Regions from separate parts of the Homo sapiens genome. Here region 2 is linked to region 1. Evidence: fine-mapped expression QTL. A gene starts in region 1. The other region holds a variant in brackets. All regions are shown on one strand. Distances are between the middles of the regions. Region 1 holds the start of CLIC5 (chloride intracellular channel 5). Region 2 overlaps CLIC5 (chloride intracellular channel 5).

Evidence for each region.
Region 2: its variant is fine-mapped to the expression of CLIC5 in tibial artery (GTEx, PIP 0.98).

What each region holds. Positions count from the first base shown.
Region 1 is chr6:46,014,565-46,017,471 of GRCh38, forward strand. CLIC5 (chloride intracellular channel 5) reads right to left here and starts at 1,296. Exons shown (of 6, transcript NM_016929.5): 1 at 916-1,296. The coding sequence starts at 978. RefSeq lists enhancers at 409-1,253, 1,254-2,098 and a silencer at 947-996.
Region 2 is chr6:45,967,352-45,970,258 of GRCh38, forward strand. All of the region lies in intron 1 of CLIC5 (chloride intracellular channel 5), which reads right to left. Among named protein-coding and RNA genes, the nearest start is that of CLIC5, 47 kb to the right of the region's middle. The variant G/C (reference allele first, on the strand shown) is at 1,435.

The sequences.
Region 1 (2,907 bases):
CTGTTTCTGCTCAGCCCTGGAGGCTACTCTCCCGCAGCCTCAGGTTTCCCTACTTCTGCAGCGTCGGCACCAAGGGCTGATCAAATGTTTCTTTCTCCTTACACCGGCGGACCGGGAAACGCCGCCGCAGCCTCGCCTCCATCCTTCCTCCTACAGGTTGCAAATAAAGTACAGCAGCTCTGACATTAGGCAGTTTCTGTCCAAGGAGCAAGGTGACTTCATTTAATTTGCACTGTGCTCCTTCATCCCTGTCTGCATCAGGTTGAACGGGAGGCTCTCCCTACTACCAAACGCCTAACATTTCCTTGATACTGCCTTGAAAAATCATGATTATGACAAAAATAATAACGTCGGAGAATGGAGTGCTTGTTTTCTGCTTTGCAAGTCACCAAGCAAGAAAACACTTTTGTCTCCTTGGCTTTTATTTTAGGATCTCTGAGCGAAAGAGAGAAAGAGAATTTTAAGAAATGTCATTTTCGCTTTGCCAAAGATCATTGTGTCAATAACGTTTCTCTCCCATTCCTCCCCCTCCTCCCGTTTTAAAGGAAAGGTTCACGGGTCCAGCCAGGTTTCTGCCGCATCCCGACACCTGGAGACGTCTTTCAGGACCAGCCTGAATCGCGTCCGGGCTGGGCTCTGGACTCGGACTCGCAGCGGTGACAGCGGAGGCGGGGACGGGGGTGGACAAACTGCGGATCAACTCTCCGAGAAGACGGCCACCTGCCGGAACCTGCCTTCCTCCATTCCGCCCAGGAGCCTCGCAGCGGGGCGCTGGCCTGCGGAAAGGCCACGGGGGAGCACAGGGCTCCGCGCCGCCCTCCTGGGAGGGTCCGGAGTCCAGCGCACCCCGAGCCCTGGTGGGTGAGCCCGGCGGGAGGCGCGGCAGGTGCGGCGGGAGACTGGACCCCGACCTACCTTCACAAAGAGCTCGATCTCGGGGTCCCTGTCGTCCCCGTTAGCTGTCGCCGAGTCTGTCATGCCGTTGGCGCCCGGGGCTACCGTCCCGGGCCGGGGAGGCGCCACCTCTGCAGCACCTGGGCCAGCACTCTGCGCTCCTGCCGCTGCCCAGCGGGGCTCCTCTTCAGGGCGGTGTTTAATTTTTCACAAAACCATCTATTCTCCAGCCCGAGCAGCGGGGTCTGAGAGATCAGTGTCCCAGATGCTCACATGAAAAGGAGCGAAGCCGGGAGGAGGCGGGGGGCCACGGGGAAAGCCGGGTTAAGGGAATGACAACAGGTCGTGGGAGCAACAAGTGCCGGGCTGCCCGGAGGTGTCACAGGATCCGCGACTGTCAGCGATCCCGCCGCCGCCAACGCGCCCAAAATAGCCGGCGGCTGCAGGGCGGGGTCAGCCGGGCGGGGACGCGGCGGGGACACCCCGGCAGCTCGGGCCTGGGCCGGGCCACGGCCCCCCGCCCCAAGACCCCGCAGGGCAGGAGGCGGAGACAGAGCTGGTCCTGGCAAAGCCACCAAGGCCAAGAGGATGTCCTGGGGGCGGATAATGAGGCGAAGGCAGAAAGAGTCGAGGAGAAGGGGAAGGGGAAGAGGAAGGGGAAAGGGGAAGGGGAAGAGGAAGGGGAAAGGGGAAGGGGAAGAGGAAGGGGAAAGGGGAAGGGGAAGAGGAAGGGGAAAGGGGAAGGGGAAGAGGAAGGGGAAAGGGGAAGGGGAAGGAAGAGAGGAGATGGCTCTCAAGTCTTCTGTTTCTTTAATAAAGCGTCAGCTCCTCCGAGTTACTCCACTACCAGCCTTACCCACTTGGAAAGCCCTTCCTGTCTTAGTGATGCTCAGAACCCCCACCAAAAGGGGCATTTGCCATCCTTGGGCTAAGCAAAAGGAGAGTAGGGTGCTGGGGACGGGCAGGGCAGGGCAGGGGTGGCTCCTGGGGCAGAGGGGTGAGTCAACCCGGTCAGGTGCGGCTTCCATGCCTTTCAGCCTTCTGGGTTTGTTTATTTTTCTTCTCCCTTCTTTCATTTTCTTTCTATTTCTTCCTTTATTTTCTGATCTTACTTCATTCCCGTTCTCTTCTGGTTGTTTTAGTGAAGTAGGATGCAAACACAGAAAAGATGCACATATCTTAGGTGTATGCCTCAATGAATTTTCACAATCCAACCCACCCATGTAACGAGCGCCAGATGAAGAATAAAATGTTAGCCACAGCCCTAGAAGCTCCTCCTGCTCTCTCCTCTCCACATCTTTTCTCCCGTCTCCACTGTCCCAGGGTAACCATTATTCTGGCTTGTAGCAGCATAGGATCTTTTTGCCTGGAATGTTGGTGTCTGGCTTCTTTCGCTCATTACTATGTTTGTGAGATTCATCCATTGTGCTATGTGTAGTTGTGTATCATCCATTTTCACCGACACACTTACTTATTCATTCTTCTGTCAATGGACATTTGTGCAGGTGACTATCATGACTACTCTGTCACGAACATTCTCTCTATCAAACATCTTTTGGTTGGATTCACAGACACTTTTCTCTTGGATGTATACTTAGGAGTGGACTTGCTGAGTTGTAGTGTATAAGAATGCTCTCCTTGTGTAAACACTGCCATAGGTTTTCTAAAGTGGTTGCACCAACAGACATTCCCACCCTTCAGTTCTTTAAAAAATAATTATTGAATGTTTTGCACCAGAATCTGGTGGAATTCTCTTTGTCTTCTTTGCCTTCTCTTTAATTAATCCTGTTTGTGCTATGTCCTTCCTTACTAAAAACATGTATTTGTTTAATAGCTTTATTAAAAAATTTATCGCTTAATAAAAAAATAAGTAATAATACTTATTATGTGCTAGGCAAAAATGTTGAGCACTTTACATGTGTGAACTTGTATAATATTTACAAATAGTATAATGATCCCAATTTTACAAGTGGGGAAACTGAGACATGAAGTATTTAAGTAACTTATCCCTAG
Region 2 (2,907 bases), 47 kb before region 1:
TAAAGACATGATGGCCAGGTCATCACTGAAGTGCAGTAGTAGTAGAGAATGGGTGGAGTGGGGACAGGAAGGAGCCCACCTAAGGGTTCACGGAAGGATTTGGGGCAGCAACAATGCCTAATGTGAGCCTCAAAGGTAAGAGAGTTTATTCATACAAAGTGGCAGGTAAGGCCATCCAGGCAGAAGTGATGGCATAAGCACATGCCTGGAGGCTGGATTGAACAATGCAGGTGTATTAGGCTGTTTTTGTGTTCTGTAAAGAAATACCTGAGACTGGGTAATTTATATTGAAAAGAGATTTAGTTGGCTGATGGTCCTGCAGGCTGTACAAGTGCCATGCCAGCATTTGCTTAGCTTCTGGTTAGGGCCTCAGGAAGCTTATGATCATAGTGGAAAGCAAAATGGGAGCAGGCACTTTCCATGGCAAAAGCAGGGGCAAGAGAGAGAGAGAGAGAGGAACCAGGATCCTTTAAACCACAGCTCTCCTGTGAACTATCAGAGCGAGAACTCACTCATTACCATGGGGAGGGCACAAAGTCAGGAGGGAACCAACCCCATGATCCAAACACCTCCCACCAGGCCCTGCCTCCAATATTGGGAATCACATTTCAACATGAGATTTGGCGGGGACACACATTCAAACCATATCAGTGGGTGTGCAGGGAATTCCAAGCAGATCTTCTTCATGCTCTATTAGGAAAACCCATGCAGAATTTCTCTAGTTCCCTTTCTTCCTCCATTCTGAGGACCCCAGCCTAGTCACAGGCAAAGCCATAAGGCAGTCAAATGCTCATCTTCTGGGGGTCTCTGTGTCTTCCCAATCTGCTATCTCCACCATCATGCATCTCTAAACCCCTCAGCCACTCTTGGCCAGCATGCCTCTCCCCACTTGTATCTCTCAATGCCAACTCTGAAAGCATTCACATTTAAGTATGAATTGTTGGTAACTGCTAAGCACTTATTCCTCCTGGGGTACTTTTATTTATCATGGCCCAGATGTAAGCAACGAGATGAAGCTTCAATAGTGGGGTTGCAGGTGTCTGCCAGAAACTGATTAAAGAACTGGGAAAGAAGGAAGAAGGGCAACAATAGCTTCCTGGGGGTCCTGAAACCAGACATGTAGGTTTTTATCTATTATCTCCTATGTGAGATCCTGCCAACTTGTTACTTCTGCAGCTCTGAAAAACTAGCTCACACAATGGATGCCCCAGACCAAAGGGCAGGCACTCTTATCACAAAACTGCCTTAATTTCCATTTAAAATTTTCTATTTAAAATTACTTCAAGGCTGGTTGGAAGGGCAAGACTTCAAAAACAACACATTCCTTTTTAATTAATTGGAGGCGGGTGACTATAGGAATGTTTTAGCTTTGCCGTTAATATGAGTGCTATGAATTTGTAATAGTGACATCTTCCTATACTTGTGCAGTAAGAT[G/C]TTTGTTAGCAAGAATGTTTGGAGAAGCAAGATGTTCCCTGGTGAACTGAATTCCCTGGGTAGCCCTTTAAGCAATTTGGGGCAATGTAATAAAAAGCAGAAGATTAAGAGTTCTGCGTTCCAGACCTAGTTTTGGCACAAAGAGTTGTGTGACCTAGGGCAAGTAATTTTCCCTCTCTGGGTCTTAATCTTGTTATTTTTAAAGTGAATAAATTAGAAAAGATGGGCTTGAAAGACACTCTGTTCCTAAAATGTGGCTAGGAGAAGGTGAAAATAACTAAATCTTTTATTTGCACCTAAAAATTCCAATGGCTGAGTAGAGACTCCACAAGCTACTACAGTCCTCTCTCCCAGCACCATGCATGGCTCACAGCACGGGCTGGATAAATGTTTGCCGAGAGGATGAAAGAGCTTGTGGACTAGCATTCTATTCTGAAAACACAGGCAGCTGGATCTGCAGGGGAGGGGCCAGCACTGTAGATTGCAAGGAAAATCAGGCCACAAAGGAAGAACCACCTGTGACCACCTTTGCTAGCTGCTTCTGGGCTCTGCCTTCTCACAACTTCTCTGTAGCATCTTTCCATAGTATTCTCAGCACCTTACCTTAAAAAGCAGTTGAAGAAGCACCCTTTTTGGAAGGCTGTCCCCACCCCATGTCCCCGCCCCCACCCCCTCCTGCTCTATCCAACTCCTTCAGACTAGGGCAGTTGAGATCCAAAGACTTCAGATGACTTTTCCAAGGCCACATAGACGATCGGTAGGGATGGAGTTTGCTATTGAATGGAGATGGCTGAAATCTCAGTCAAAATCGTGAACGTATGTAATTTAGACATAATCAGGGAAGACAGGAAAAACAGAACTGAATCCTTTGGAAAGTCATCTTCGAGAGATGTTCCTGCTAACCCTTGCTTATCTTTCATTTTATTCCCTTAAAAGAGTAAACTGCTGAAGACAGAGGAAGAAAAATCCTGCCTTGTTATTGAATGGTATGGATTCACATTCACATCAAGGTTTTTTTTTTTTTTTTTTTTTTTAATCGTGGAGGATTTACTCAGGGTAAAGACAGAAAGCCACACTCCTACGACAGGTCCTGAGCTCCCAGGGGAAGGATAGAAGGGAAGCTGTGTAGCTGTCTTTTCTCACTATGTTCCTTCTTCTCCCGCCTAGGGTGATTGGGAGGATTAGGGGAGATAACACAAGTAAAATGGGGGCGCAGTGCCTGGCAGAAAGCACTCAGTGCATCTGCCATCTTCAAGGTCACTCTGCCCTCTGGGCCCATTCCTCCTTCCTCCCTCTCCTCACCCCCAGCCAGCACATTAAAGGTCACAGGTCTGGAGAAAGTCCTTCTCTGCCACTGTGCAACAGGGAAATGTTTCTCCCAGCCAAGTGCCCCTGTCATGTGGGCCCACCCAACTAATTTCTTCTGAGCCCCTATAGAACTTACAGTGAAGACTGTGGTTAGTCCTGGATGAT